4 separate regions of the Homo sapiens genome follow, and regions 1, 3 and 4 are each linked to region 2. Evidence: fine-mapped expression QTL. A gene starts in region 2. Each other region holds a variant in brackets. All regions are shown on one strand. Distances are between the middles of the regions.

Evidence for each region.
Region 1: its variant is fine-mapped to the expression of SNTG2 in esophagus mucosa (GTEx, PIP 0.98).
Region 3: its variant is fine-mapped to the expression of SNTG2 in whole blood (TOPMed, PIP above 0.99).
Region 4: its variant is fine-mapped to the expression of SNTG2 in esophagus muscle (GTEx, PIP 0.99).

What each region holds. Positions count from the first base shown.
Region 1 is chr2:1,091,972-1,100,076 of GRCh38, reverse strand. It overlaps SNTG2 (syntrophin gamma 2), which reads right to left. Exons shown (of 17, transcript NM_018968.4): 3 at 1,825-1,881; 4 at 1,667-1,724. Among named protein-coding and RNA genes, the nearest start is that of SNTG2-AS1, 140 kb to the right of the region's middle. The variant C/T (reference allele first, on the strand shown) is at 4,342.
Region 2 is chr2:946,015-954,119 of GRCh38, reverse strand. It overlaps SNTG2 (syntrophin gamma 2), which reads right to left and starts at 3,271. Exons shown (of 17, transcript NM_018968.4): 1 at 3,052-3,271. The coding sequence starts at 3,123. SNTG2-AS1 (SNTG2 antisense RNA 1) reads left to right here and starts at 2,728. Exons shown (of 3, transcript NR_136151.1): 1 at 2,728-2,835; 2 at 3,734-4,209; 3 at 4,319-4,486. RefSeq lists a silencer at 3,233-3,362.
Region 3 is chr2:1,163,685-1,171,789 of GRCh38, reverse strand. It overlaps SNTG2 (syntrophin gamma 2), which reads right to left. Exons shown (of 17, transcript NM_018968.4): 7 at 6,155-6,242. Among named protein-coding and RNA genes, the nearest start is that of SNTG2-AS1, 220 kb to the right of the region's middle. The variant G/A (reference allele first, on the strand shown) is at 4,960.
Region 4 is chr2:1,054,094-1,062,198 of GRCh38, reverse strand. The region is part of intron 1 of SNTG2 (syntrophin gamma 2); the gene reads right to left. Among named protein-coding and RNA genes, the nearest start is that of SNTG2-AS1, 110 kb to the right of the region's middle. The variant A/G (reference allele first, on the strand shown) is at 4,240.

The DNA of each region.
Region 1 (8,105 bases), 150 kb before region 2:
CTGTATTTCTTATCACACTTAAATTTCTAGGTTTCCTTCTGAACAGCACCTGCTGCCTCTGAGGCTGAGACTGCCTCTGGGTTTCGGGGCTTGCTGGCCCCTAATTCCTGATTAAATGGAATCCCATCTGCTGCAAGTTTAACGGCAGGTTTGTAAGCTTGCTCAAAAAGGAGAAAAATGTGTTGCTGACCTGACTCTTAAATGTCCTTCTGCCGAAAAAGAATCTTTACCCGGATGCAAATTTCATGGCAACGCATTCTGTGGAAACCTCTCTTCCCTGAGAACGTGTTCACAGCTGCTGTGGGGAATCCAAATCCCACTGGGGCAATCTCTGCAGCAAAACATGGTCTCCTGCACCACACATGGCTGACCTGACCATGACTGCCCTCACCACAACTGCCCTCACCACACCCACCTTCAGATGACCTGACCATCGCTGCCCTCACTGCACCCACCTTCAGAGGACCTGACCATCACTGCCCTCACTGCACCCACCTTCAGAGGGCTCATGGTTAAGGCTTCCCCAGCCTGGGACCTCCAGCCTCTTCAGGGCACTCTACCTGCATACTGGGCTTATGGTTTGGGTAAAATTGGGTGAAATGAGTAAGAATGTTTAGAGAAAAAGTATGAGCTTATTCTGTGCTTTTCACCCAGAACCTCCACATTTCTGGTGGAGCGTGGAGAGAAGCATGTCCCCTCCAGGGACACAGCCAGGGGTCCCCTGCAGTGGCTGTGCTTTCCGGTGTGAGGCACATGAGGTCATAAGGCCACCCGCTTGCCCACTCTGTCTTGCTTCCTGTTCCCCTGCAGGCCTCAAGGACATAAGCTAACCGCCCCACCCCCCGACACGGACCGCATGTCCAGGTGCCCCTTGCTCTGGAGAGCAGGGGAGGAGTGGCCTGAGGCTGCACACCCAGGAGCTGCTGGACCAGGTGGGAGGAGGCCAGCCACAAGGATGCAGAATCCTCCCGATAGGGAGACAGATGCATGGAGTTTACCGCAGGGGGTTCATTATGTCCAAAATCGAATTGTATGAGAAACAGTCTACCCGATAGTGGAATGTGTGGCCAGAAATCCCACCCTCACTTTTCGATTCTACACAGAGTAATCTCTCCCTATGAATGTCAGTTATTCTTGTGATTATTCCCATAGCCAGTGTTTCATTTCAGGGATGGAGGTGGTAGTCAGTGCAGTACCACCAGCTGCCAAGTGCAGAACGGACGGCGTTTCAGCCCCACCTGAGCGCGGTCAGCTAGTCCTGCAACAGGCTCATTACGTTCTTAGGCTCAGAGACTTGTGTATCAGATACTTCAACGAACACCATGGACTTCTCCATCTATATGTAATTCTCCTCGATTTTTAAAATACCTTAAAATCAGCATTCAAACCCCTGAATCATCAATATCTTTAGAGGGGGGATAACCTGATACCTCAAACAGAGAATTAGTGTCTCTCTTAAGGGCCAGAGGGATCAGCAGAGGTTAAAAAGGGCAGCCTCAGATCAGGGCATAAGAAGCATCCTTTGAAACAAGACACAGCTACAAAAATAAAACGGAAGTTTAGGTAATCGAGCAAAACACATATCTGCTGATTTTTATCATTTTCAGTAATTTGTTATCTCACAAATGGCTGTGATGCATACACAGGTCATTTTGGCTGTTTTTACCTGCTTGGTCTTCGAATATTTTTGATATGACGACAGGGACGTTGTGCTCAGAACCTCCCTGAAAGACAAAGCCATCAGAAAGAAACGTGGTTATCATGATTCACACTGGAAAGTTCTTCAAAAATAAAAAGCAGGAATAGAGAAAACCATTTCCATACCTTTATACTCAGGCCCAAGCCGCCAACTGGCTGTCTGCGGAGTGTAACAGTTCTGCGCTTTAAAACATTTTAGAAAACAAACCAAGTTTAGGTTAAAATGCACTATCAGAAAGTGAATTCAAAAGAAATTCTTCATTTAAACCCAAATACGTGTTAAATTATATTTCCAAAGCAACTTTGGCTAAATATGACAGTAATGACACTATTTCAAATCTTTACTCCGTGGTATTGCACGTATGAAAACGAAGACAGTGATAAAGAATAGGCCCCATTCCAGGCATTGTCTGAAATCCAGGAAGAATCCCCACAGAACTGTCATCCCGTCTGCATTCTGCTTGTGAGGAACGGAGCTCCATGAAGAAACGAGGGGTCCACCTTCTCCCAGGTGGTGAAAGGGAAGTGGGGCGGAGCACTCAGTCCTGTTTTAGAACCGCTCTCTACCCACCAACCCCAGGACCGGCTCACGCTTCACTGTACGTCTCTGCTGAAGTCAGCCGTGTTTAGGACAATCTTCAACCAATATTAATTCATGAATGATCCATTTTTTCACGTCCTCTGACCACAGATGTCTGGGATATTTAAGGGTAGGTTGTGATAAAAAGCTAAAAGCACAATAGGCCTTTAACTGGCTAGTGAAATGGTAAAAAATCTCCAAATCTCTTGCGCATTAAGCCATGCACCTATGTTTTGCTGTGGTCTAATCTGATGAATGCGACTGTTGCCAACTTCAGGTAGACATGAGTGACTGGTGCTGCTCTGAGGGGGCGCACAGAGGCAGCCTGGGGTAGACGGACAGTGGCCAAAGGGTGCTTTTACCTCAAAAATACACTACAGGAAAAACAGAAGTGACAGACATTCTTTGAGTTCTAAGAGGAAACATGAGCATGTTCAGGCTGAATGGCTCTGAAAGGAATCTGCTGTGCAAAGCAAGGACAAAGAAGTAAAAGGGTGGCAGAGCCCACGCCGAAGGGGGGACCTGGGAGCTCCCGCCCCGGCCAGCGGTGCAGGTGCAGATGCAGGGAGGCTGCTGTGAGGGCTTCCGCAGCCTGAGATACCCCAGGAATGTCCTTCTTAGGGGGAAATACTTCATAAACTCAAAGGAAAGAAACCAAAAATTAGAGCAAATATACCTGTGTTAAAGTGTGTATATGGGGACACAGCAAATAATACTTTAATTGGAAATTTTACCATTTCGATCCTTTTTGGACATATAGTATTTTTAACTGACAAAAATAATTTTATACACAGAAAAAGAGCCGTATTTCGGGGGCTTTGCTACAGAGTGATCGTTTTGGCTTTTTCTTGGTGTTAGACTGTATTCCAGATACTGTGAACAGCAAAGTCAGAGCCACTCCTGGGACATCCATACCACGGGCTCTCATTGCATCCACATTCTCAGTATTTACCTGAAATGCCACAGATGCTTCCCAGTGACACTGCACCAATGGACAGAGTAACAGGCTCTTAAACCTGCTCATCAAAGCATTACTGACAACAGCCAAGATATGGATACAACCCAAGTGTCCACCAGTAGATGCGAGAATAAAGAAGATGCAGTAGATACACCGAATGGAACATCCTTCAGCCATAAAGAAGGAAATCCTGCCATCTGTGGCAACATGGATGAGCCTGGAGGACACTGTGCCGAGTCGAATAAGCCAGGCGCAGAAAGACAAATACCACACGGTCTCCTGCATGTGGAATCTAAGGATGTTGAACGCAGAAGCAGAGGGTAGAACCGTGTTTACCAGGGGCGTTCAGGGTTGGGGGGCGGAGGTGCAGGCCAAAGGGTGCAACATTTCAGCTGTAAGGTAAACAAGTTCTGTGGCTCTAATGGAAAGCATGGTGACTATGGTTAATAATACCATATTTCCTTAAAATTTGCTAAGAGAATAAACCTTACATGTCCTCACCACAAAAAACAAAGGTAACTGTAAGAGGTGATGTATGTATTAGCTTGTTTGTAGTGTGCATTTCACAATGTATATGCATATGAGAACATACCCTGTACACCTTAAGCATGTACAATTTTTATTAGTTGTAGCTCAATAAAGCTGAATAAATAAATCCCATTATGTGGACAGAGGGTTTCCAAGGATATCCTCTATAGAGGAGGGAGAGGGAGTTACTCCTGCATGTGGGAGGCATACCGTTTTCCTCCTCAACACATGGACGGTTGACTTTGCAGGCCAGAATGCATCTCACAATGAATGTGGACTGCAGAACCAAGGGGGGGTTCATTCCCTCCCTCAGCAGACGCTAAATTCTGTAGTGTTCATGGCCAACTGAGGGAGTGGGGAGAAAGGCGTCCGTCCACCTGCCAGCTGCTCCTCTGTGTGCCACAGCAAACAGCCTTACGCTTCTGAGTTCTAAGGCTATGGAGGATGAGAAAATTGAATTATCTACGTCATAGTAACTGGAGGCCTCTCTGTATGGAATTTCTGAAAATGCTCAATAACATTTTAAAATTGTAGCTGTTAGTGTAAGTATTTGAAACTCATGCAAGCAAGTACAAGA[C/T]GAGAGAAAATACATTTTGAGAAGAAACAAGTTAGTTTCTGCCTTGATAGACTGCCAAAGAATGACATTTTAAAACTGTCATTTGACTCACTTATACATGTCAGGAAGATATCCTGAAATACCCTAAAATATCCTTGATATTTCAAAGAAAATATCAAGAAACTGATCACCTGTGGTAAAATCTGGACTAATATTCTTAACAAGATAGGTAAGAAAAAAATTACACCATTAACAACCAACATAAATATATGTTTACTGGAATGTGAAGGGCTTGTTCTCTATGATTTTAGCTAAGCCAGAATAATATTTATTTCATACCTGCTTTGTGCAGTCTCTTGAAATGTTCCTTTCTGTGTACATTTGTACTAGCCATTTAGGTATTTAGGTCTCTAAATCTCTCTAAAATCAAGTTTCTGCATCTGGAAAGTGAGAGCTGTACTGTGAGCCCTAATAGGAAGTGCTGGGAATGGGACTGTGTCCCCCTAAAATCCGTGTTGAAGTCCTGACCTCCAGTGTGACTGCATTGGAGGTAGGGCCTGTAGGAGGTAACTAAGGTCAGATGAGGTCATTCAGGTGGGCCCTATCTGATAGGGTTGGAACAGGAAAAGACAGCAGATACAGCGCTCTCTCTCTCTCTTTTTTTTTCTCTTTTTTCTCTCTTGCTCTTTCTCTCCCCACCCCCACCTCGCTGTCTCTACCATGTGAGGACACACATATAAGGCCTTTGCCTGCAGGCCAGGAAGCTGGCCCTTGCCAGTAACTCTACCATATGAGGACACACCTATAAGGCCTTCGCCTGCAGTCCAGGAAGCCAGCCCTTGCCAGTAACTCTACCATATGAGGACACACCTATAAGGCCTTCGCCTGCAGCCCAGGAAGCCAGCCCTTGCCAGTAACTCTACCACATGAGGACACACCTATAAGGCCTTTGCCTGCAGGCCAGTAAGCTGGCCCTTGCCAGTAACTCTACCATATGAGGACACACCTATAAGGCCTTCGCCTGCAGTCCAGGAAGCCAGCCCTTGCCAGTAACTCTACCATATGAGGACACACCTATAAGGCCTTCGCCTGCAGTCCAGGAAGCCAGCCCTTGCCAGTAACTCTACCATATGAGGACACACCTATAAGGCCTTCGCCTGCAGTCCAGGAAGCCGGCCCTTGCCAGTAACTCTACCATATGAGGACACACCTATAAGGCCTTCGCCTGCAGTCCAGGAAGCCAGCCCTTGCCAGTAACTCTACCATATGAGGACACACCTATAAGGCCTTTGCCTGCAGGCCAGGAAGCTGGCCCTTGCCAGTAACTCTACCATATGAGGACACACCTACAAGGCCTTCGCCTGCAGTCCAGGAAGCCAGCCCTTGCCAGTAACTCTACCATATGAGGACACACCTATAAGGCCTTCGCCTGCAGTCCAGGAAGCCGGCCCTTGCCAGTAACTCTACCATATGAGGACACACCTATAAGGCCTTTGCCTGCAGGCCAGGAAGCTGGCCCTTGCCAGTAACTCTACCATATGAGGACACACCTATAAGGCCTTTGCCTGCAGGCCAGGAAGCTGGCCCTTGCCAGTAACTCTACCATATGAGGACACACCTATAAGGCCTTCGCCTGCAAGCCAGGAAGGCAGCCCTTTGCCAGTAACTCTACCATATGAGGACACACCTATAAGGCCTTCGCCTGCAAGCCAGGAAGCTGGCCCTTGCCAGTAACTCTACCATATGAGGACACACCTATAAGGCCTTCGCCTGCAGTCCAGGAAGCCAGCCCTTGCCAGTAACTCTACCATATGAGGACACACCTATAAGGCCTTCGCCTGCAAGCCAGGAAGGCAGCCCTTGCCAGTAACCAAACCCACAGCACCTTGGTGTTGGACTTCCACCTCCCAGAACGGTGAGAAGGGAGTCCCTGCTGCCTAAGCCAGCCCACCTGTGGTTCCTTATTACGGTGGAGCCCAAGCTGCCTCAACAGGAGTGAAGGAAGATCACTGTGGAAAGCACCTTACAGACCATCAGGTTTAACAAAAATACCAAGGTGGTTAGTTTTATCCATGAAAAATCGTTATTTTAAAACCACCTCATTCAAACACCAGGACTTCAGTGTGTCAAAGTTGAGAGAAAAGGCTCAGCCAATTTGTGTTTTCACACTTTTAGAAATGAACATTATATAATTATGAAGGCTCTAACATTTTAACATTAGCATATCTAGGAACTTTACTTTTCAAACCAAGATTTATAAAACTTACTGGATGATAAAAAGTAAACAGGAAAACTTCTGCAGCTTCTAACTGGAACTTTTCACACAGCAGCCTGGCTGAAGTTATCCTGCCTCCTGCATCCTAATTATTTTATGACCCCAGAGGCAACCCACAGCTGATCACTTTAATTTAAGGTTCTGGGTAGCATTTCCATAGTGCTCTGTTAGCTGATATCTAGACAAACTAATGTCATCAAAAGGCATTTCTAATGCAACCAAAACAGTCCGCTGCCTCAATGCTCTCCCAGTACATACCCCTTAAAGTCAAGGACCCACAAGCAGGTGCGGATCGTGAGCTGCCCCGAGGCTCATTATGAATCTAATTTATGGCCTGACTCCCCTATTCCATGCGTTCCCCCATAATCACGGCCTCCTCACTTACCATACTCAGGGGCTCCAGGGACTCACCAAAGGAACAAATTCAGAATACAATCGAATGTATCATAAAACTTCTACAGAATGGAGGTTGCAATCTAAGGTAATTGTTCAATAAATTATTTTCAAAGTCAATCCTGCTTTTCTTTTCACAAACATATCAGATAAAATCTTTCATAAAATATTATTCTGCATTTTATCATTTAATCCCAAACTATGTTATGACATTTAATTAATGTTCACATCTTGGTAGCAGCATCATTATATTAATAATAGAACATAGCTATCTCCACATTATCTTCTGACCACATATTTTAAGAACGAGCTATTTTCTATGACATAGATAACTTATCAATTATACATTTCTCATCAACAAAAAAGTGGTTTGGGGGTATATAAGATCATATTTCTTATTCTGGTCTTCTAAAACATTGTTCTTCAAGTTATTACTGAATTACATGTATGAATGGGCCTCACAATTCTACTTCAGATATTTAAACTGTGGACTTAACACTAAATTTAAATTTGTTATGGCTGCAAACTCATGTTCAGATTTTAATACTGCAGTTTCCAGAAAGATTTCAATCAGTTCTACAGGTAAAACACTGCGCCTGTACCATGGCCACCAGCCAGGACCCTGCCCCCAGGTTTGTTCAGCCCAAAACCCTTCTTGTGGTGAGGACAGGATGACCTGGGGTGTTAATCCCCCTGCTCTCTCCCCAGGTCCTCGTCGATCCCCCTCCCTTCCCTGGAGGTCTTACTCCTCACACAGGCCTGGCCTCACTCTTGTAAGGAGAGAATGGAGATGTGGGAAAGGCGAGGGACCTAGAAAATAAGGGTTTTTTTTTCTCTCTCTAATTGAAGGGCTTGAAAGTTAAATTTTAAAAATTAGAAATTTATAGAAAAACAATTCTGAAGTATTCTATTTCACACCCACACATGAAAGATACTTTCAAAAATACTCATAGAGTTTTATTTCAGAAAACAATGTGCTAACAGACTTCGCCCTGGGGCTATGTGAGGGGGCTGTTGAGTCAGGAGGCATTGTTTCTTCCACAGAGTTGGACATTCCCTTTGCTTTAGCAAACACTCTATAAGGCATTTTTCAGAATGGGGCATTGAATCTCTCTCC
Region 2 (8,105 bases):
TTTGGGGTCCCTCGTGTGCCTGCTGTCACATGCTACATGAGCTAACAGGAAAGCCAGAAAATCACACTGCTTAGTAAGTCTATCCTGAATATACCCATTTAGTAAATAGGAGGCCTGCGATGCAAACACACCCTCTGTCACCGAGAACTGCAATGCCAGCCCCTCTGCCAACTCACTCAGAGCCTCATGGGGTATCTTGAGAAGCAGATCTAAATTAAAACTGAAGCTTAAATGCCTTGTCTACAGTCATCATCCATAAAGATATCCAGAGACAAGAAGCTGTTGCTCCACATACACCATTCAGAAAACAAGGCAATTTTAACATCCCATGTTGGAAAAAAACAAAAACAAAAACAAGGCACACTTTTCTTAATTGGACCTCATTCAAATATTTACTGGGGAACATGTCTCCATGTCTCCTGGTAAAGTCAGGTAACTGCCTGCTTTGTAATGCATGGATTTTGCTTATGATGTCATAGACGTCAATAGAAATTCTACAGTTGAAATTAAAGATGAGTCAGCAAGGATGAGAAACATAACCAAAGCATAGAAGGAATGGGGAACCTTCTTAGGAGCTCAGATGCTTCATTCATCTCATGCAGCAATTCACATCTGTAAACAGATGATTAGGTGGTGCCCTTACCCCACATGCACCTTTAAAATGACCTAACGTGCTTTCCCCCTTCAGTGGGCAAGCTCATCACATAAATGGGCATGTTCCCGGCTCATGCCAATAATTCTTCCAGCGCCCCAGACTGAAGAAGTGTTGTCATTTAAAAGCAGCAAATGTGCTGTAAACATCAACCAATAGTAGTCTTTGAAGCTACAAGCAAGACACACTTCGCACATTGTACTGAGGTTGTCTGCCAGTGGGATTTTACCCCTCAAATCCAGGTATGGTCAGAGACAGAGCTCCATGAACTCACTTAACTTAGAAAAAAACATCGGGAACAGGCACTTGAAAGGGGAAACAAAACAGGTCTGTTACCGAACAGGAGACCTTCAAACGTGGCCAAATTCCATGATTCAAACAAGCAGTCATGATAAAGAATGTGTATAGTTTTGACTTCAGATAGAAAAAATATAACTAGAAATATAAGATTTAGAAAAGACTTTCATCTTTTTCTAGTTAAAAGCACCAAGTTCTCTTAACTGAAATGATTAAATAATTACACAAGTTGAATAATATTGTGCAGTTATGGTAAGAAAATAATTCTGCCATTAAGTAAGGATGACATTGTATACTAAGAACATTCATGTTTTCAAGACAAACCTGCCAACACCAATACTTAACAGATTCGTTTTAAATACATAAGAATCTGAGCTAACATGACCATGCACTGGTGTCTAAGGTAGGCTTAGCACATACCTAATTACTTATGACTGCAAAGTTAGGAGTCTTGCTCTTAAAATGCTCCATCTTATTGTAATACTTGGCCTCCAACGCTAAAAAAAAAGTTTCTTTCAATACAATTCAGACAGGCTGTTTCAAATAATCAAGGTCCTTATTAGAAAGAAAGCGCCAATCACATCTTGTAGCAAACAGGTGAGCAGAGGCCACTCTTGACTGGAAAACATCAAATTTAGCACCTTAATTAATACTGAGCGCAAAGGAGAGCATTTACTAGAATACGCGCAGTTGCTTTATTTGTTGACGTTATTGCCAATAACTCATCAAGTGGGTCAATCATGAAGTATGATGAATCCACTTCAACGCTTCCGCTATAATTACAATGATTAAAAGCAAGAATTGCTTTGCTCGAATGTCTGGAGAAAAATGCACAATCCCTAACCGTGGGAGGGCATCATTATAAAGCTGAAGGCAGTGACCAGACGGAAAGCCTGTGATTCCACAGCGCCTGCAGTTTTTACTGCGGTTTATTTCCAGGTAATCCCCGCATATTTTCTCGGGTTTGATTACCATGGGCAACAGTGGGATAGCTATTCATATTACAAAGTACTTCAAGAAACGAACACCCACATTTTACATGAAATTTAATTTTCATATTTTGTAGTAAAAGCCCAGAAAGGTGCTACTTGAATGAAGATGCACCTGTCTCTACATAGAAATCTTTTTAACATCACAGTAGCGACGACCACAGTCCTAGTTTAGAATCATTATTATGACGATAGGAATTTGTAGCAGCCCTCAACCCGTGGCCTTCTGAACCGTCTCTCCACTGTCCTATAAGGGAGGGCTAACTGTATTCCTGGTCGCTCCTGGGACTGGGAGCTCCTGGGGAAGGAATCCTAAAGGAGTGGTTGTCAATGCATTTTCATTAACAGCCGCGCTTCTCGGCAGCCTCCTAGGGCTGGGGTGGCCACGTGCTCCCTTAAACTGTTTTCACAACTCGAGGCTGTGCTGTGGGTGGCAACTTGAAGGTTTCCAAGAACTTTTCGTTTTTCTTTGGGCCAACATTTCTGTTTTCTGTCAATCAATAGTTTAGTTATTTAAAAATAAGAAGGTGAAGAGGGAGTTATTTAGGGTGGGAACCAGAATAGACTTCAAAAAAGAAATCCGTATTACCCAGTTGGCGTCCCAGCGGTTCCCCGAATGGCCTAGAGCCCCCAGCACCTGCCGAGGCCGCGCCATGCACCTGGCTGGGCTCAAACTGGCCAACTCAGACCTGGCCTGGGCGCCCGAAGGCTGCAGGGGGGACGCTCCGGTCCGAGCCACCGCCTGGGCCCGAAAGAGCCGCTCCTGGGAAGCAATGCCGGGCCAATCTCAAATCCCAAATTCTGGAAAGCACTACTTCCCACGCAGTAAAGGGAAGCCCGGGCGCCTCAAAACCAAACCTTGGAAGACGCTGGAGGAGCAAAGCCTGCAAGTTTCCAGTAAGACACTGGGCTGGAGGGAGCAGAGCGGCCAGGGGGCGGGTGCCCACTGCGTCCCGGGGCTCCGGCGCCCACCCTCCGGCCAGCCGTCCCCGGAGACAGGGAAGGGGTCGCGGGGAGCGAGGGGGCGTGGAGGGAGGAGGGGCGGGGGGAGAAGGGCGCGAAGGAGAGGGAAGGGGGGCCGGAGGTGAAGGGGCGCTGAGGGGCCGCACTCACCCGCGCAGGTACCAGCAGGCAGCCCTGGCGTCCGCGGGAGGCGGCCGGGGGCGGGGGTCCCTCGGTGCCCATCGCCGCCCCTGCGGCTGGGTCCGCGCTCCGGGCCGGCCGAGCTCAACGCCAGGACCCCGTCCGAGCCTCCCAGGGCCCCGCCAGGCGCCGCGTCCGCGCCCGCGCCCCTCTGCCGGCTCCGGCTCGGGCTCCACCGGGGCGCAGGGCTGGGGAACCGGAGCTCCGCCCGCCGACCCGGAGCACCGCCCACGCAGACCCGCCCCGGGCGAGGGAGGGGCCGGGCGCGCACCCGCGGGGAGGGCGGCGAGCGGGGATCAGCCGAAGTCGGGAGAGGGGCGCTTCCACGGGGCGGGAAACTGGCGCGCGACTCTGGGGGAAGTGCAGGATGGGGGGACAGGGGCGCTCCCGCGGGGGTGGATGGGGGACCATAGCGGGGCTGGCGGGGCAGGGGCCGGCGCACGAGGCTGGAGGAGGGGAGCGCGCGCTTCTACCCGGGCTGGGTCGCCGAGGTCCGCGGCGCATCGTGGCGGCGGTGGGCGGAGGGGGGCGGGGGGCACCTCTTCTCCCTTGTGGCGCAGGTGGGCGCGCTCTGGACCGGCTTGACGACCCCTCCCCGCCGCCCCACCTCCCTGGCCAAAGGTTCTCAGCTTCTAATCAGGGACATTTCTAGTCCACAGCCTCGAAGCCATGGGTTCTCCCCGGCCCTCTGAAGCCGCCACACCTGTGCCAGCCGGCCGCGTCCTCAGACCTTTCCCCGCGGAGTCTTCCCAGCACTTGGAGACGCAGCGCAGGGCCCCGAGGACGGCCTGGCCCGGAGAAAAGATACCGAAGCTCCAACTTTCCCCAACCCCGCTCCCCTCCTCCTTCCACCCTCCCTTCCCGCCCCCAAAGCTCGGGGGTCCTATCCCTCCTCCGGTCCGCGGAGTCTCCCGAACCCTGCGGGGACCCGGCGCTCGGCGGTGCCCTCCTGGGGCGCACGGGGCTGGGGCGGGAGCGAGGAGACCAGGTGGGGAGGGGACCCCAGATCTCAGACGCCAGGGGAGACGGCGTTTCCCGCTGTTCATTCAGGTTTGTGCCAAAAGGAGCCTCACAGATGCAGTATTGGGTTTGGTAGACTCAAATCGTCTTGTTTTAATGTAAATGAAAGTAAGTTTAGGATAAATTCCAGTGCGGCGGGGGCAGGCAAGGCTACCCACATTTTTTAAAAAGAAGCCAGCCCGTATTTTTCTCCCTTTCCAAATCCTCCGCCCCCCAGTCCTTCGACCCAGGCACGAGCGCCCATCGCGGAGGCCACGATGCCCGTTTTATTCCCTCTCCACGGCAAGGAAAAGCAGCGAAATCTGAGGTCTTCAGAGGTTAACCCTATCTAGGAGCAGAATGTGACGCATTGTAAACAAATAAATATTGAAAACTCGATGTTAAACACTTTACTTTTTCTGACTCCGACTTGCTTGACCCCTGAGCAGACCTGGGTTTCGAACACAGACGCCCTTCCCCATTTCTCTATTCTCTGTATTCCTGTTTCACCTTCACGGCAGTCTGCCAGCACTTCTTAGCACTCAGTTTAACCAGAGGACAAGCTCTTGAATAGCAAAAACCAGGTCTTTTTATACGTGGCACAGTGGCTGTTACAAAATATGCTTCTTGGGTGAATTGGTAAAAAATATTGTATTACTTTTTATTTGTAGCAAAACCTAGAATAAGAAAAAGTACAAGAGATTATTGTTTGCCTTTAAATTGCATTTTTAAAAGAGCGTGCATATAATCTCTGAGAAATTAAATGTCTACAAATAGCACAAAGATATTGTCTCATTACCTTGCAAAGGGACATTCTATTCCAGGGCCTGAAGAAGGAAAAACAGCGTGTTGCATGCATAAATGTTGACTTTGAGAGACAAGTTTTTGTTAAAATTTTATCGTTAAATGAATAGACACATATATTTTTGTTTTTCAGACCAAAGGTAATTGTTAATTCATTTGTAAAATAATGTAGTTTTGGCTAACAATCTCTGGAATCCTTTCTATAATAAAATTTTGTGATTCCAGGACGTCGTAGGCGCTCTGGGGCTGCTTTTGAAAGGCTAATTAATTCAAGTTTTAACTGCCTATCTGCTTTTATGCATCTGTGTCAGGACTGCACGTAAGGGTTATTTTGCTTATTTTAAATACTAGGGTTCTACTGCAATAACAATAACAATAAAAAGTAAAACCCTGACTATCCTGAAACTCTGCGAGGGAATGTCCCCCATGAGGTTACCAAAATTCAACTTTCTGGTTTTTGTGATGAGTATAGCTTTGATTCTGAGATGTGTCTAAAACCAGTTGCAGTTAGTGTCTCTTTATTAACTTTTAACTTTGAAATAATTCTGAATTTACAGAAACTTTCTAAATGTAGTACAAAAAACTCCAGTAACCCCTCATCCTCATGGGTATGTTCCAAGACCCCCAGTGGCTGCCTGATACCGTGGATAGTACTGAACTATGTATGTGTGTATATATATGTATCAATTGCATGCATATATATATGTATCAATTGCATGCATATATATATATATATATATATGCATATATATGTATGCATCAATTGCTGACCAAACTGATGTATGTGGCCTAGACAAACTGGAAGATGCCCTGGTCAAAAGGCAGGAGCAATGAGGTTGTATTTCAAGGTAAAAATACAACCTTGAGGCCGGGCACAGTGCTTCACACCTGTAATCCCAGCAATTCGGGAGGCCAAGGCAGGTAGATTGCTTTGAGCTCAGGTGTTTGAGACCAGCCTGGGCAACATGGTAAAACCGCGTCTCTACAAAAAAATACAAAAATTAGCCAGGCATGGTGGCATGCACCTGTGGTCCCAGCTACTAGGGATGCTGAGGCTGGAGAATCCCTTGAACCCTGGAGGCGGAGGTTGCATTGAGCCGAGATCATGCCACTGCGCTCCAGCTTGGGCGACAGAGTGAGACCCGGTCTTAATAATAATACAACCTTGGCCTTGTCATTTTTATAGTCAACATATTCAGAATGGCCAGGTACATTGTCTGTTACTAATGAGACTTTATATTCCAACCTTCCCCCTTCCAAGGCTTTGGGAGGAAGTACTGGTGGAGCCCTTCCATAAACATGGTGGTTACCACTCATGCTTTCTGGTTATGTTGCCTGAACACAAGCAGGTAACGTTTGTTTTTTGAGCATAAGTGTTCCTCTGTGTGTGCAGCACACCTGGCTTGGCCACACGTCCTACAGCATTGCACACGGCACAGGGTAAATCAGCCCTTCAGTGTTTTATGCCCTGGGGCCTTCTTTGCCCTTTCAAGAACGTAGGTTCTGTTGGGTATCTTCTTCCAGAGGAGCCTGGTCTCACTGCAATTGAAGACTTGCTTTGGATGGCATCCTTTCCCTTTAATCAACTTCAACTCTGCCGGAAATATGGCAGCAGCTTCTTCACTGGCAAACACAGCCTCTCCAGTTTTTTGGTTTTTGGTTTTTGGTTTCGTGACAAGCCCACTCCTAAATCAGTGTAGCTATGCCTCACTTGCCATGAATGGCTCAGTGTCACTCACTTTGGGGGACTGACTGCTGAAGTCTTCCCATGGGATTGTGCTTTCTGCGCTGACGTGCCCTCGGTGGGAACACCTTTCCGCTCATGTCTTCTACCTACAAGTTCAGCGTCTTTTCCGTCTTAAATAGGCACTTATCACTCACTGCAGCCGTAACGTTTGCAGTTTGAAATGTGATAGCAAAACTAGCATGATTTCTTTTTTATTTTTATTTTTATTTTTATTTTTATTTTTTATTTTATTTATTTATTTTGAGATAGAGTCTCACTCTTGTCGCCTAGGCTGGAGTGCAGTGGCGCGATCTCGGCTCACTGCAAGCTCTACCTCGCTGGTTGAAACAATTCTCCTGCCTCAGCCTTCTGATTAGCTGTGATTACAGGCGCCCACTACCACGCCAGGCTGATTTTTTTGTATTTTTAGTAGAGATAGGGTTTCATCATGTTGGCCAGGCTGGTCTCAAATTCCAGACCTCAGGTGATCCGCCTGCCTCAGCCTCCCAAAGTGCTGGGATTACAGGCGTGAGCCACCATGCGCAGCTGGGTTTCATTTTCGAATTAACTTAAAATACTTTCTGGACTGACAGCCTTGTGGGAACATCCTTTATATTGCTTGATTTGCTAACTGAACCTATTCCCCCTCCAGGCATAGTCTTATTTCTGCAAGGAAGACCTATTACCTTCCTGTTTCACACTTGGTTACCATTCTGTAACTAGTTTTTCTGCCCCTAGAAGTTTCATTCTTACCACACTGGAAATCTTAGCAATTTCATCATACATTTTTTTCCTTTCCTTATTAAAGTGAGTACTTTCACTTTTTCACTTAAGGAAGCACTTTATGGCTTCTCTTTGCCCTAGTCTTGTGTTTGGGGCCAATACTGAATAAATTAAGCAAGACTTGAACAGAAGCACTGTGCTACCTGGACAGTCAATTTATAACCCAGACAGCTACTAAGTGTCAGGATGTGTGGTGCACACAGTGAATTCATGGGACAGAGAAGGCGTGAGGATTCGCCATGCTTCTCAGAACAGGGCACAACTTCACTCTTATGAACTGAGAGGGCAACTTACATCCTGAGAGGCACAAAGGCGTCGGTGTGAGGATTTGCCATGCTTCTCAGGGCACAACTTCACTCTTATGAACTGTTTATTTCAGGAAATTTTTATTTAATATTTTCAGACTGCAGTTGACCACAGGCACCTGGGACCACAGAAAGTGAAACCGCACATAGCTGGGGCTGCTGTGCCCTTGATCTTTCACTCAAGTCCCAGGTAATACTCAGCTTCTCTCTATTTATATGCAGATTACTTTCCATGAAACCTGTTCAGAGTAATTTGCAGAAATAATGTGCCATTTCCATTAAGTACTTAACAAATGTTTCCTAAAAAAATCAAAAGCACTCTCACGCCTGCACAGAGTATATTCATCACTTCTATTCTGTACCGGTAGTGGAAGTCCTAGCCTAGCACTTAGGCAAAAGAAAGAAAT
Region 3 (8,105 bases), 220 kb before region 2:
ACAAAGACTCATATTTTTAGAAAACACTTCATACCATATTCCTTTGTGAAAATTAAGATATTGAGAAACTTGGAGAACTCTGGGGGAAATAAGAATTGCTTAACTTTTAAAGGGTAGTTGTCAATTTTACTAGATGAAGAACTTTTCTTTTTCATTGACCACTGTTTACTGTCTGGTGAAGACTCTGCTGTGGACCAGCCACTGCTCCACACAGCACCCAGAGCGTTTCACAGGGTTGTTGAGACAGCACCTGAATCTGCCCTTTAGCGTTCAGAAGCACATTTCACTGTTATCTATTTGAAATTCTTTCCCAATGCCTGTTATTTTATACCCGTAATCACCTTATCAGTAATTGGAGAGGAAAATCAAAATATTTTTAATGACTGCAGTCTTCCAAAATCCCAAAGTTCATGCTATAGACAAAGGAGACACATGACTAATGGCAGCAGATCCAAGCCACCATTGACTGAATGAGCTAACAGGTAAATAGTCAATAAATTTACATTTGACAGTCACGCTTCCACTCTAAATTTCTATAAATTTATTTCTGATGAATAGGTATCTTGTCATCCATATCCCAGAACAGAAATGTGAATAGTTATATCTTTCTTCTATCACAAATAAAAGTCCATTATTTTTTAAAACCCAATATCAAGAATTCTTAATGAGAAAAATAGACTTAGTTTATTTTTATTAGGTGTCAAAAATAAACAATCATATTAGAAAACATGTAGTATATGATCAATGTTTATTAAAACACCTAATCTTAAAAAAAATTAACCCTAACCTATCAAAACTGCTTAGATTACCCTCAGGCAATGCTGGTTGGAATGTAAAATGGTGCGGCTGCTGTGGAAAATAATTTGGCAGCCACTCAAAAAGTTGAGCCTAGAGTCACCAGAGGACCCAGCAATTCCAGTAGTCGGCATCCACTCGGTGGGAAGGAAAACATCTCCCAAGAAAAACGCATTCACGGATGCTCATGGTGGTATAATTCACAATATCCCCCAAACAGAAGCAAGACAAATGCCCATCAGCTGATGAATGGATAAACAAAACCCATACAAAGGGTATGTACATGGGTCCGTATACACAGATATATTCCCTAGGACGGATGCTGTTCAGCTAAGAGAATGCAGCACCGATGCCCGCGACATTGGGGGCGGACTCTGAAACTACACTGGGGGAAGATGCCAGACACAAAGGCATCTTTGTGCGGGATTCCATTACAGAAAACGTCCGGCGCAGACGGAGATCCTCATTCCAGGTCGGATGCCACGGGGTTTGAGCCACCAGCAGATGTTGACTTCAGGGGAGCCTGGGCCTGGCCTTCAAGGCCCTTCCTGATTACCCACAAAGAGACAGGAAGGAAATTCCCGGCTGCCGAGGGCTGGGGTGGGGAGAGTCCGGGCTGACTAACTGGCACAGGGTTTATTTTTGGGATGAGGGAAATGTTTTGGAATTAGACAGTAGCAATGCCTCTACAACGTAGTGAAATATTTAAAACTGCTGAAGTGTTACTTTAAAACGGTGAATTTTCTGTTGCATGAATTGTATCTTTATAAAAAGACCAAGAGCCTGACTTGTGAAAAATAAAACCCTACTTTGACTCAGTCTCAAACGGTTGTTTATTTTCTCTTTGATAAACGTTTTAAAATGTGGAAACTGGACATTTTCCGCACAGATCTGCCGTGATACTCTCTTTCCCCACTCACTGGAGCTGCTCGGTGGATTTCTGCTTCATGCAGTCAGAAAGTGAAGTCTGCTCAGGCACAGCAATTTTACCTTCACGGTGTGAATTCAGCAGAGGACGTTTCGCCTGAATTTATAGAGAGATTATGGCTGTCTTGCTTAAATTGTTATGGATACTAAGATTTTAACATTTTTCACTGTAAAGAATGAAATAAAAGGAGAATAGACACTTATTGAATTAATGGGGACTCAGCACCCCTGGCCTCTGTGATCTGCACCCCAGGCTGCCCTTTCCTGCATGTGCCCGAGGACGTGTGGGGTGGTCCGTGTAGCTGGGCCTGTCCAGGCAGAGCCATCAGAGTCAGCACAGCCCCGCTCAGGATGCCGGCAGCAACGCTCATTGAAGTCACTATGTGACTGGCAATGGACCCCGGAGCCTGCAGGTTTTAGTGGAGCCCACGGACAGAAGTCAGGATGTGAATCTCAACAGAGACAGCCTCCGGCCCCACAGGCTCAGGCACTAGAATTGCAAGAGCTGCCCATCCTCAGAGGGAAACACAGGCTCAGTGCTATGGGGCTCTAGGCAGGGGCTCACGGTGAAAACCTCCACCTGGGGCACTTCCTCTGCCATCTGGTGTTGCAGTGTTGCTGCTGCTGTTGCTTAAATTCTGCTCCTTCAAAGGCACCCAGGGAAGCTGGCTTAGACGCAGCACCCATCTCACTCGGCCTGTGAAGTCACCTTGCCTGAGAGAGAAGTCAGGAACGGCCCCAGGGTGAGTGTCCTCTGCCTCCCACCCCCACTTAGCAACATCCGAAAGCACCCCCTGCTTTCTGTCTGTCTCCTCCTTTATCAATGCCACCTCCTCCTGTCCAAGCCACTATCTTCTCTTCTTTTCTTTCTGGCAAAAATCTATGAAAAGTCTTAGTTTCTTCCTTCGTGAGCCTGTATGGTCACAGCTGCTGCAGAATCTGCAGACACTCACGCTGCCCCCTCACAAGTGAGTCCTCCTCCCCCATCCGAGCTCACTGCTGGGCCTCCTGATGTGCGTCTGACACCTGAGTCTCCCTGCTGGCTCCAAGAACTTCTGTGCAGCCCTCAAGTCCACCCCCTTCCCAACTCACAGCAACGTTTCTCAAAACCCCAGGGGTGCACCACTGTGCCGCGTGTGACATTTCGCTCCCTTAAACCTTTGCCCCATTGCTAACATGTTCTGCCTCTACGGCCCTGGGAATATTCGCCTTTCTCATGCACAGCCCCTCAGCACCCCTTACTCTTTTTCCTCAAGAACCCTCTAGGTCTTCATTCATGCTCCCGTGGCTCCTTCTAGCAGAGGGAGTGGTCTCTGAGGATGGCAAGGCATGCAGTGAATCTTACTGATCCAGGTTTGCTACAATGGCAGGAAGATCGATTTTCCTAAGATTGTGAATAGCATAGTTATCCTGCTGTGATCGATGGGAAAAATGGAGTTGCTGAAATGGATTTGTTCCTGGTTGCTCAGGAAGATGAAAGCAGAAGTCATGCTATGAGTCTAATGATGCTTTTGATCAAATGCTGAAACAGGAAAAGTTCACTTGTTCCCCTTGCAGGGCTTGTGATGGGGGAGTGGCTCGCTTCTTCGGTGCCCCACTACTCAAACCTCTGGCGGGGGTGCCATAGAGATGGGCCGGCTTTGGGGCTCTGACCCCTGGCAGCATCTAGGGGTGGATGTTTCCAGCTCCTGAAGCCCTAGTGGGAGTGTGTTCCAGGGCGCTCTGTTAGTTCTGCCGTCTGTGGGCGGCCTGTAGGCTTCAGTTCTGCCGTCTGTGGGCGGCTTCTAGGCTTCAGTTCTGCCGTCTGTGGGCGGCCTGTAGGCTTCAGTTCTGCCGTCTGTGGGCGGCCTGTAGGCTTCAGTTCTGCCGTCTGTGGGCAGCTTCTAGGCTTCAGTTCTGCCATCTGTGGGCGGCTTGTAGGTTTCAGTTCTGCCGTCTGTGGGCGGCCTGTAGGCTTCAGTACTGCCGTCTGTGGGCGGCCTGTAGGTTTCAGTTCTGCCGTCTGTGGGCGGCCTGTAGGTTTCAGTTCTGCCGTCTGTGGGCGGCTTCTAGGCTTCAGTTCTGCCGTCTGTGGGCGGCCTGTAGGCTTCAGTTCTGCCGTCTGTGGGCGGCTTGTAGGCTTCAGTTCTGCCGTCTGTGGGCGGCTTCTAGGCTTCAGTTCTGCCGTCTGTGGGCGGCCTGTAGGTTTCAGTTCTGCCGTCTGTGGGCGGCCTGTAGGCTTCAGTTCTGTCGTCTGTGGGCGGCCTGTAGGCTTCAGTTCTGCCGTCTGTGGGCGGCCTGTAGGCTTCAGTTCTGCCGTCTGTGGGCGGCTTCTAGGCTTCAGTTCTGCCGTCTGTGGGCGGCTTCTAGGCTTCAGTTCTGCCGTCTGTGGGCGGCTTCTAGGCTTCAGTTCTGCCGTCTGTGGGCGGCTTCTAGGCTTCAGTTCTGCCGTCTGTGGGCGGCTTGTAGGCTTCAGTTCTGCCGTCTGTGGGCGGCTTCTAGGCTTCAGTTCTGCCGTCTGTGGGCGGCCTGTAGGTTTCAGTTCTGCCGTCTGTGGGCGGCCTGTAGGTTTCAGTTCTGCCGTCTGTGGGCGGCTTCTAGGCTTCAGTTCTGCCGTCTGTGGGCGGCTTGTAGGCTTCAGTTCTGACGTCTGTGGGCGGCTTCTAGGCTTCAGTTCTGCCGTCTGTGGGCGGCCTGTAGGTTTCAGTTCTGCCATCCGTGGGCGGCCTGTAGGCTTCAGTTCTGCCGTCTGTGGGCGGCCTATAGGCTTCAGTTCTGCCGTCTGTGGGTGGCTTCTAGGCTTCAGTTCTGCCGTCTGTGGGCGGCTTGTTGGTTTCAGTTCTGTCGTCTGTGGGTGGCTTGTAGGCTTCAGTTCCGCCATCTGTGGGCGGCCTGTAGGTTTCAGTTCTGCCATCCGTGGGTGGCTTGTAGGCTTCAGTTCTGCTGTCTGTGGGTGGCCTATGTTAATCAGCTCAATTAGACCCTCTGCCTTATCGCAAGGACAGAAGGCTTTCTGTATCCCGGGGTTCTTGCCTTAGCATACCAGAAGAATCAGATCCCACGTGAGCTTGGAGGGTTGGCACAAGGTTTTATGGAGTGTTGGTAGCTCTCAGAAGATGGATGGAGAGCCAGAAGGGGCATGGAGTGGCAAGGTGGTTTTCTCCTGGAGTCTCGTCCAACCACCCCAGCCAAACTCCACATCATTCTGCCAGTCGATAGCCTGCCAGTGTCTGCTGGTGCCTGTCAGCATACTCTTCC[G/A]CTCCTCTGCTCTTCTCCACATCCGGCCACTTGTGTCTCTGCCCACTAGGGTCTTGGGGTTGTTATAGGCATAGGATGGGGGCGTGGTAGGCCAGGGTGGTACTGGAAAACGCAACATTTGGGTGCAAGAACAGGAGTGCCTGTCCTCACTTAGGTCCATGGGCACAGGCCTGGGGGTGCAGCCCTCGCCAGGGACCCGCCCTTCTCCTCCCAGCACTTCCCTGCCCCCCTCCTGTATCAGTGAAAAACCCAATGCATGATCAGAACTCAACTACTGATGTGCCTGAGAGCTACAGCCGGGCCACTCGGGGCAGGAGAGAAGGAAGGCATTGACAATAGGGACATCAATGGAAGAGAGAGAGAAAGTAAAACAGTCAATATGAACCCCCAGGGAGGGAAGCTGTTCCTTCCCATGAGAGAGTGACAGGAAGGACAGCCCACCAGCCCCCATGAGAAGGAACCCGACTGTCGGCTCAGCGGGAGGTCCTCATTCCACATCGGATGCCCTGGGGTTTGAGCCACCAGCAGATGTTGACTTCAGGGGAGCCTGGGCCTTGCCTTCGAGGCCTTTCCCGATTACCCACAAAGAGAGGGCAGTGATGCCCTCTGCTAAATCAAAGGAACGGTGGTGACTCCAACCTTTATAAAGCCATGACAGCTGAATAACATTAGTAAAAGTTACAACAACTATCTTCACTAAAACATTTTTCTAGATTTAGGGTTCATCACTTTCATATTGGGTCACAATTCAAGTATAATAGAGGATTACAAGCTTTGTGCCAAAATATGTCAGGGACTTCATAGCATAAATGTACCATTATTTTCATTTTTTGCACTGAAAATTTCTCAGATCAACATAGGTATTTTACGTGTAAACTTTGCTTCTACGTTAACATATAGATAAATACAATCATGGTGAGTTTGCATGAAGGAACGAGCATGTAGTTAAGTGACGAGAAGCACAGTCGAGAAGCACGGTCTGATAACACTTCCTTCAAAAAAGCCCGTGGATGTGTTAAAACATACAACGTCATGGGACTACATGATGCCACGGTGCCTGCCTATACTTTTCTTCTCTCTGAATGTACACTCAGCAAATGATTAATATCCCAGTCCATGTGGTAGCATTTGGATAAATAATGTGGCAAGAAAGGAATTTCTCCAGCACCCTGGCATTTCTCCTCTTCCCACTTACCTAACGGGAGCTTCAGAAATGCCGGCGCTTCCCTGAGATACTCAACGGTGATGGTAACTTCATCGCCAGCATTTCTCAGCAGATGCACCTGTCAATATGACAAAAATAGCTACTTTTACCACCACAAAAGAACCAGACACAGAATTAAAAAATAAAATCTCTCTACCTCTCCTGTTTCCCAAGAATTCAAAGTTCATAGTTACCTCTGAAACACGGAAAACTTTGTGGGCTTCAGCTGGAGTAAAGAAGAGTGGTTATCACCTCCGAGACCACCTACCCCCCACACTCTATCTGCGTAAACAAGTGCATGAGTGAGCAGGGGTCTGCCCGTATCATCCACAACACATCACAGGGATGCTCTCTGCATCCCTATGAATGCAATCTACCAGAAAATAATACCCTCGGAGAAATCAGTTTGTTACTACAAACAGCCTGTGTTCAGTCACTGGCAAAACATGGATTAACTGTGGCAAAACAAACCACAAATACTAATTTAAATATTTAAATGATGCTTTAGTTCTCAGGAAATTAGTGGCTATCACTTCAAAAGGATGGAACTTAGCTCTGTGCTGGAGTTTCAAATTATACAAACTGTTTCAGTCACCTCACATACAATCCCCTACGTTTCAACACAGCATCTAAAATCAGCTTTTTGTGCACAATGTATTTGCCATTGTTTAAATCTGATTGAGACACTAAAAGTCTAGATGCTGCAAAGCTGTGTGTGTCAGAATTCACTGCACCTGCATCTGTGTCTTCCCATAATGCATAACCCTCCTCTGCTGTATCCTCCTCCTCCGAGGCCAGGTATAGCCCACCCGCCCTCTCCTCTACACAGAGCCTGCCAACAGTTTGGGCAAGTTCCTACCTCACTTCATCCTCCTAGGCCAGGTATATCCCCATCTCACCCTCCCCTCTACATGGAGACTGTCCAAAATTTGAGCAGGTTCCTGCCTTACTTCATCCTCCTAGGGCAGGTGTATCCCACCTCGCCCTCTCCTCTACACAGAGACTGCCCACAGTTTGGGCAGGTTCCTATCTCACTTCATCCTCCTAGGCCAGGCATATCCCACCTCGCCCTCTCCTCTACACAGAGACTGCCCACAGTTTGGGCAGGTTCCTACCTCACTTCATCCTCCTAGGCCAGGCATATCCCACCCCGCCCTCTCGTCTACACAGAGACTGCCCACAGTTTGGGCAGGTTCCTACCTCACTTCATACTCCTAGGCCAGGCATATCCCACCTCGCCCTCTCCTCTACACAGAGACTGCCCACAGTTTGGGCAGGTTCCTACCTCACTTCATCCTCCTAGGCCAGGCATATCCCACCCCGCCCTCTCGTCTACACAGAGACTGCCCACAGTTTGGGCAGGTTCCTACCTCACTTCATCCTCCTAGGCCAGGCATATCCCACCTCGCACTCTCCTCTACACAGAGACTGCCCACAATTTCGGCAGGTTCCTACCTCACTTCATCCTCCCAGGCCAGGCGTAGCCCACCTTGCTCTCTCCTCTACATAAAGCCTACCCACAGTTTGGGTAGGTTCCTGCCCCACTTCATCGCTCCCTCTGATCTTTCCTCCTCATTTCTTCAGTCACTTTCCATGCCCGTCATTGCCTACCTGGAGGATTACAGTTCTGCACAGCTCCCTAAGACACCTGATGTAGCTTGAATGGGTTTTGAAGACTGGATTTAGAAAGTTTGAAAGTTCCCATGGCCTGAGATCCAACATAAATGCCTTCCTATTTCACCTGAGGACATTTCTATCTGGCATGGCTGGTCCACCTCCACCACTGGTGCTCCCTCCTGGCCCTCTGAGCCACCCCACCCCGGCCATGCCTGTGGACAACCTTAAATATGTCGGTGCTTCACATAGATCTTGACCTCATAGGACAGCCTCATCCCTTTTACCTCATGAAATCCCACTAAAAACTCCAGACTGGAAACACATC
Region 4 (8,105 bases), 110 kb before region 2:
TGTAGAGCCATTTATATTCCTACCAGCAACTTATATAATTCCAGTGAGTGCACACTCCCTCTAATTAAGCTTTTTATTTTCAGTCAAATGGTGTGAAAATCCTTCATTGTAGCATTTGTGTTTCTCTCCTCTATTACACTCATGTTTGTTATTAACATATTACTTCTGTGAAAGGCCTCTTATGTCTAATTCCATTTTTCTGATGTATAATTTGCATTTTTATTGTGATACATATTTCTTTGTTATAGATTTATAGTATATATTCATTTTTTCTTTAGTAATTGTTTTATTTATCTCTGCTCTTAAATACTACCAAGTAATATCCAAGAATAATGGAATATTTTTATATTGCTCCATTCCAAAGACGAAGTTCAGAAACCTGATCATTGACACCTGACAAGAACTGTGAGGGTTTTAAGATTTTACCTAAGTTCAAGCTAACACGTTATCCAGCAACAGCGCATGGATGCTGGCAGAAGACATGAGATGCCTGGCTTGGAGACAAAGGACTAAAGGACTTCGTTACTCAGAGACGAGCAGGACACAGAGCACCCACAATTTCCTTTATGATTTCTTGAGCCTGCTATCCCATGAAGCACCAAGAGGGCCAGATGATTGACAGCTGTATACCTGGTGGGTTGCATTACAGAAGAGAAACTCTGAACGTAGGAAACTTTGAAACTTTAACAACGTTCAATAAGCATGCCTGCCCTTTTATCAGAGGCAAAACACTTCCTCAACCTCGGAAAGCTGTTTGCTGCACAAACATCCTTGAAAAGGTTGTCTGGAACAAAGGCAATCAGCACTTCTGCACACAAGTTGTGCAGAAATGTGACCCCATTGATCATGATCTCACAATACCTTTCTATTATCTAATACACATATTCCATTTTTGTTAATTGCCTTAAAAATGTTTATCATCATTCTTTCCACCCCAGCGTCCAACCCAGGATCACACGGCTTTGTGCTGTCACATCTCTTTAACCTGTTCACCTTTTGTCATTCTTTCCACTCCAGCGTCCAACCCAGGATCACGCGGCTCTATGCTGTCATGTCTCTTACCTTTTCACCCTTTGTTTACCTTTCTTGATCTTGACTCTTTTTTTTTGGAAACATGGGTCAGTTATTTTGTGGAATGTTCCTCAGCTGAAGTTTGTGTGATTGTGTGAGGGTCACAAGTTTACATTTCTATCACTGTTGTCCTTCTCATTTGTGGTGTTAATTTTGATCACTTGGTTAAGTTGTGGACCCGCAAGTTTCTCCACCCTAATGTTACCATTTTTTCCTTTGTAATTTATACATAATTCAGGGGAGGACCCATTGGGACTGTGAACATATCCTGCTCCTGGTCTGACTTCACCCACTGGTTTTAAATCCATTGATAGCTTTTATTATAACTTCAGCATTTGTTTTCAATTTGTTAGTTGGCATCTAACTACAAGTACAGCTTTTTCTTCTTTTCCATTTATTTATTCACTTATTTCAGTATAAACTCACTATTTCATTCAAATAGTTATAATTTAGTATCATTCTTAGGTTCATATTTGAATTATTCGAGGCTTGGCCCATGGGACACTTTCAGGCTGACCTTTCTGCCCTTTACACCTGTCACTCTTCCAGATGAACCTTATACTTAACACAATGCTGGAGCCAGACTGTCCTCAGGGGCCCTGGTTCCCTTTTGTGAAGAAGAAGGGCATTTAGAATCCAAAGCCGGGAGCTGGGGTTCTCATGCTAGAGGGTGTCTTTGGTTCCAGGACTGCTCAGTGCTCCACGGTAGGACACTTCTATCTCTGTATCTATGCACTTCTCTCTCTCCAAACACACACACAGTACACACATACACACGTGTATTAATACCTACATATCCATTAGATAGGTATCAATATTAAACAACTGAGTTCACACTGGTATCGTTATTTCATTTCTTGAAAGTGAACCTTTGGTTTCCTCTGTGTAATTTTCAGTTTGTAACTTTTTACTTCCTTTAATTTAAATGTTTTATTTTAGTGTAATTACATTTATCAAACCTTTCATTTATCCCTAAAGTCTTTTAGTCTTGGTGTTAAACATCTTTCCTACACTAAGGCCTGCAGGTAAGAGTACATTCCAGTTTGTATTATTTTTTTGATATGATGTAAGGTAGGGATAAAATGTAATCCTACTTCATGTGGCTAACCATTCTTTCCATCTCTTTATATAAAATATTTTATTTCCACAGTGATCTGCCATGCCACTTTTCTTATATATCTCCTATTTCTGAGCTCTATATTTGATTCTACTGAACTTTTGTACCCCTGATCCAATATAACTCTGTCTTAGTTTATATAGATTTATGGTATGTTGTAGTAATTAAATGGAAAAATCTACCTTCCCAGTACTTTTTCAGATATGTCTCAGTTTGTTTTGGATCTTTAAGCTTTAATGTATTCTAGATTGTTTTTTAAAATGGTCTCTAAGTAAAGATTAAATTTTAAGAACTTTTGTCTAAGATTATTCATGTTATGCCCTCTGAGTTATGAGGGTTGAGGGAGTTTTATATTTCCATTGTCAAGGTTTTCCTTATACTTCAAAATTCCACAAAAGAGAAATTTATAAAATAAAAAAACGTATTTAGATGAAATAGTAAAGATTACAAATTACGTATCCAAAAGATTAAAGTTCCAAAAAATGTTCAAATCCAATTGTGACTCCAAGTTTCCATTAGAATCTCAGAACACACTTGTATTTATAAAACCTGTGGAATCCTTCTAGTAAACTTCACATTGTAGAAGCTTCATCATCTTCCAAATGTTTACACAGATATCTTGACTGATTATTATTATTTTTTTTTTTTTGCCCTTTTGCAGCTGAAAACTCAGTCCAGGAGGAGAAGGACCTGTGATATTTGGCTTTCCCAGGAAACTCCTACATTCCTTCTCAAGATCAAATCTAAAAACAGGTTTGTAGAATATTCACTCCAGCTCTAAGAGATGGCAGAAGGTGCCAGGAGTCCATTGCCAGGAACACACTTTCCTCAGTCTCGTAAATGAAACTGCACAGATGGCAAAGCTAAGCAAAGGGCACTGCAAGACAGTGGGCAATGCAGTTCAAAGACGAAGGTGAAAGATGTATTTGCTTTCCTGTTTTTCTACTGAAGCAGCAACTGGGACAAGGAAGGAAATGCTGCCCAAAAGTGAGCCCAGCTAGAAGACAAATGGCAACATTTGAAGACGGAGCCCAGGGGTGGTCCCATGGCTGCCATCCTGCTCTCCCTCCTGGGGAGACAGTTGTGCAGCAGCCCATCTCAGAGAGGGCACTGGACCAGTGACAGCAATGAGAGCCTTCAAGGAGGGCTCTGGCACAGGGAAGCTCAGTTCATCTGACTTTCATTAGGGGCCACAGGCTTGTGTGGCACAAACAGGTGCCATTAGTTAGGTACAACCAGATGTTTTTGATGGTGCTTGAGATGAACCATGAGCCTCTACAAAGACAGGCTGGTCACTTCTGATGAAAACTCCACCCTCTAGCCAAGGATGATGCTACTCCCATGCAGGTCCCCAATGTGGGGGACACTGGAAATAGCAACCAGGGTTCACCTTCTGCTCAACCAAACTTTAATCAGACAAAAGCAGACAGCAGCAGCTGAGGAGACACTAGGATTTTTGCATCTATGCAGTAACAGGTATTGTGGAATTATATGGAAAGCAATCTATTTGTCCATAATCCAATACAGAGCAAATTAAAATACTGCCAATAAACCCACTAAAACAAACATTATGTAAGATGAAAACAGGGAGAATTTCAAAGAAACAATGTCACATAATTTCCAGTGTCCTTTATTCATTTAACACTACTGGTGTGTTGTTTGCTTTTTTAAAAAAAAATCCAATGCCTACTCTGCCTGTACTTTTACCACATGCTGTGGACACAAAGGTCAGAGACAAGACAGAGACACTACCCTCATTGAGAAGACATACATCTCCATTCATTATCTTTTTTTTTCAAAAAACTGTACTCTAAATTTACGTGTTGGTAGAAAAATACTAATTTTTGACACACAATCATATCTCTTAGTCAGCAACAACTGATGAACAAGGAAGATAAGAGCAGAAAAGAATGCAGATACAAATATAAGTTATTTATATTAATTCAAATATAATTTTTTAAAGCTTTTTATTTTTTGTCTTTTTGAGATAGTGTCTCCCTCTGTCACCCAAGCTGGAGTGCAGTGGCGCCATCTCAGCTCACTGCAGCCTC[A/G]ACCCCTGGGGCTTAAACAATTCTCCTGAGTAGCTGGGACTACAGGTGTGCGCCACCATGCCACCTAATTTTTTTTAAATCTTTTGTAGAGATGGGGTCTCACCATGTTGTCCAGCTGGAAGATTTTTTTGAAATGCAACTTTATACTAATTGTTTAAATATAGAAAGATCCTGTGCACATTTAGAGGCATTTATATTTTGCCACTTGTGATGGTTAATAGTGAGTGTCAACTTGATTGGACTGAAGGATGCAAAGTACTGATCCTGGGTGTGTCTGTGAGGGTGTTGCCAAAGGAGACTAACATTTGAGTCAGTGGACTGGGAAAAACAGACCCACCCTTAATTTCAGTGGGCACCATCTAATCAGGGCCAGTGCAGCCAAAATATAAAGTAGACAGAAAAACATAAAGAGGCTAGAATGGCTTAGCATCTTTCTCCCGCACTGGATGCTTCCTGCCCTCGCACATCGGACTCCAGCTTTGGGACTCGAACTGGCTTCCTTGCTCCTCAGCTTGCAGACGGACTATGTTCACACTTGTGAACGTGTGAGTTACTACTACTTAATATGCTCCCCTTTACATGCATGTGTCTATCCTATTAATTCTGTCCCTCTGGAGAACCCTGACTAATACACCAACTCTCCTTTCAGGCATACAGAAGAGAATCAGGAATATGAAATACAGCCAGAATAGAGATAAAAATGAAGTTGATGAGGTATAATTACAGAAAGCACAGTGCAAATATTAACACAGTCTTTTATGAATAGTGCCATGTTAGTCCTTAGAATAAATACATTACAGTTGTAATTCACAGCTTCTAGCAGAAATAGGCCAGCTGCTTGCAGGACAGGCCTGGCCCCAGCTCCCAAGCTCAGAAAGCCCCGTCCAACCCTGCACTCACAGGTCCTGGAGGAAGCGGCATGCATCGTTCCCCGCAGCACAGCGCTGCGCCGCCCTCTCCTCCCTCCCCACGGGGTGGCCCCGCGCTCTCCCTCCCTCCCTCCCCACAGCGGGGCGCCGCGCTCTCCCTCCCTCCCTCCCCACAGCACAGCGCGACGCTCTCCCTCCCTCCCCACAGCACAGCGGGGCGCCGTGCTCTCCCTCTCTCCCTCCCCACAGCGTGGCGCCGCCCTCTCCCTCCCGCCCCACAGCACAGCGCGACGCTCTCCCTCCCTCCCCACAGCGTGGCGCTGCGCTCTCCCTCCCTCCCTCCCCACAGCAGGGCGCCGTGCTCTCCCTCCCTCCCTCCCCACAGCGTGGCGCCGCCCTCTCCCTCCCGCCCCACAGCACAGCGCGACGCTCTCCCTCCCTCCCCACAGCGTGGCGCTGCGCTCTCCCTCCCTCCCTCCCCACAGCGGGGCGCCGTGCTCTCCCTCCCTCCCTCCCCACAGCGTGGCGCTGCGCTCTCCCTCCCTCCCTCCCCACAGCGGGGCGCCGTGCTCTCCCTCCCTCCCTCCCCACAGCGTGGCGCTGCGCTCTCCCTCCCTCCCTCCCCACAGCACAGCGCGACGCTCTCCCTCCCTCCCCACAGCACAGCGTGGCGCTGCGCTCTCCCTCCCTCCCTCCCCACAGCGGGGCGCCGCCCTCTCCCTCCCTCCCCACAGCGGGGCGCCGCCCTCTCCCTCCCTCCCCACAGCACGGCGCGGCCTCTCCCTCCCTCCCTCCCCACAGCACGGCGCGGCCTCTCCCTCCCTCCCTCCCCACAGCACAGTGCGGCCTCTCCCTCCCTCCCCCATGCACTCTCCCTCTCATCCACTTTCCTTAACTTATTCAACTCCTTCCTTCAGAATGAAGCTGGAGCCCATCCGCAGGGAGTCCTCCCCGTGCTCTTGGTGGTGTGGACCAGCTTCCCACCAAGATGGGAGCCAGAGGAGCCGCCTGGGTCCCAGCTGCCTCACCCCTTCTCCCTGTGTCCACTCTGAAACAGTGGGGACAAGGAGCCGTCTGAGAGATGAAGCTGCAGTCCCCGCGACCCACCGCATGTCCAGGACAGATCAGACCCTCCAGGAAATACCGCTGGTGAGATGAGACTGTCTTCTGTCTGGGCAAGGGCTAATTTGCATTCAGTCGTGCCCCAGCCTCACTCCTAAAGACACCTGCTCATTCTGCACATCAAGGGAGGGCTGGTGCTGCAACTGAATGGAAAATACAATTCAGAGCCATCAAAATAAAGGCACGGTCACCTTAGAAAATGGAAATGTTCACACTGTTAAATCCTTCATGATAACCCTAGGAGAATGGATAAGATCAATTACTGTTCCGGGTTTCTTCCAAATCTGAATTTCTGCAACATGGTTTGATCTCTATGAATGACTAACATTTTCATATTAAAACTGATAAATAGTTGTACCTGCTACTTGATAAAAACATTTCTGGCATCACACTGACTCAAAATTAGTATTTTTGTCTCGATGGGCATTCAGCACACTGATCTAGTGACGTCCATGAAAAATCCTGACCCACACAAGGCAGGTTGTGAGCCTCCACAGTGGGTGGAAATGCATTCTTTCTGTGTGGGTCATCAGACACAAGGCAGGTCGTGAGCCTCCAGTGAGAGGAAATGCATTCTTTCTGTGTGGGCTCATCAGAAAACGGTACCCACTCTAGGCAACAGCACTGGAAAAAGTCACCTACACAAAATGAAAAACTTACAGAAAGAAGCCCCGAGCAGAGCGGCCCCAAGCCATGAACTGCACAGTCAGGCAGATGGCCTGGGCCGGGGCAAGCTCACATTCCCACTCCTCTCACACAGCCCCTGTTTCGCTGCCCATGACATGAAGCCACTTCTCTCTTGGCTCCCTGCAGTCAGGGCCACGTCTACAATGTGAATGCAGAGTTAACAGCATTTATAGCAACACACAGCAGTACCTGACGTGGGCTGCACAGAGGAGGTAACAGCATTTATAGACTCACACAGCAGTACCTGACGCAGGCTGGATAGAGGAGGTGAGAGGCAATTGTTTTCTGAATGAAATAAAGACCAAAGGAATCAATAGGGAAAAAAAAACAAAAACAAAAACAAAACAAAAAAAGCCATCACCCTGGCAATATTTTTAACTTCTAAAATGGCTAATTTTCATCTCATGTATTTCAAATGCTTAATAGTAGACCCTAATTACAATTACATTATTCTGTTTTACTTTCTTCATTTTCCCAATTTAGATTTTTCATTTGAAAATGTACCTCTTTGAAAATCCAAAAATACATCAACATTAACTTCAGATAATATTAACAAGTGATATTCTGATCCAAGGTCTGGGGAAAAGACTTCATTAGCATGGGGCTTAATTATGCTATTGCTGTGTACCCTGGGGTGTCTCAGGAATGTGTCACCTCCAGGGGGTCCCAGAATCACCAAGGCGGCTCTGTGGGGTTCACAGGGATATTACTGAGACCTTCTCTAACATCTCTAGCCATGTAGGACTGCATCCTAAACCTGCTAGGAAGAGTGACAAAACCACAGTAGGAGCTTGGGATTTCCTTTCAGGAATCCTTCAAACTCAGTCAAATAGAGAGCCATACTGAAAATCCCCGAAGCCCTCTACGTAAACCCCTCATTAGAGTTAGATAATTAAAAATGCTAGATCCTAGAAGAATTAACCAATTCCTTGGCACGAAGAAGAGTGAACTCCTGGTGCCGTGAAGATGCTCCAGCCACAGCCCAGGTGTGGGCCGCCTCTCTTGGGTGGGAACGGCTGAGGTCTGACGCTTAGGGATGCAGGAGAAAGGGCCAATTTCCACCACCTGACAAGGTGGCAGAACACCCCCGAGCCGCACCACGGGAAACAACCAAAGGTTCAGGTCCGCCCGTCTGAATCAGGGTGGCAATGACACGGGTCCGCAGTGCCCCAGCAGACATGTGCAGGT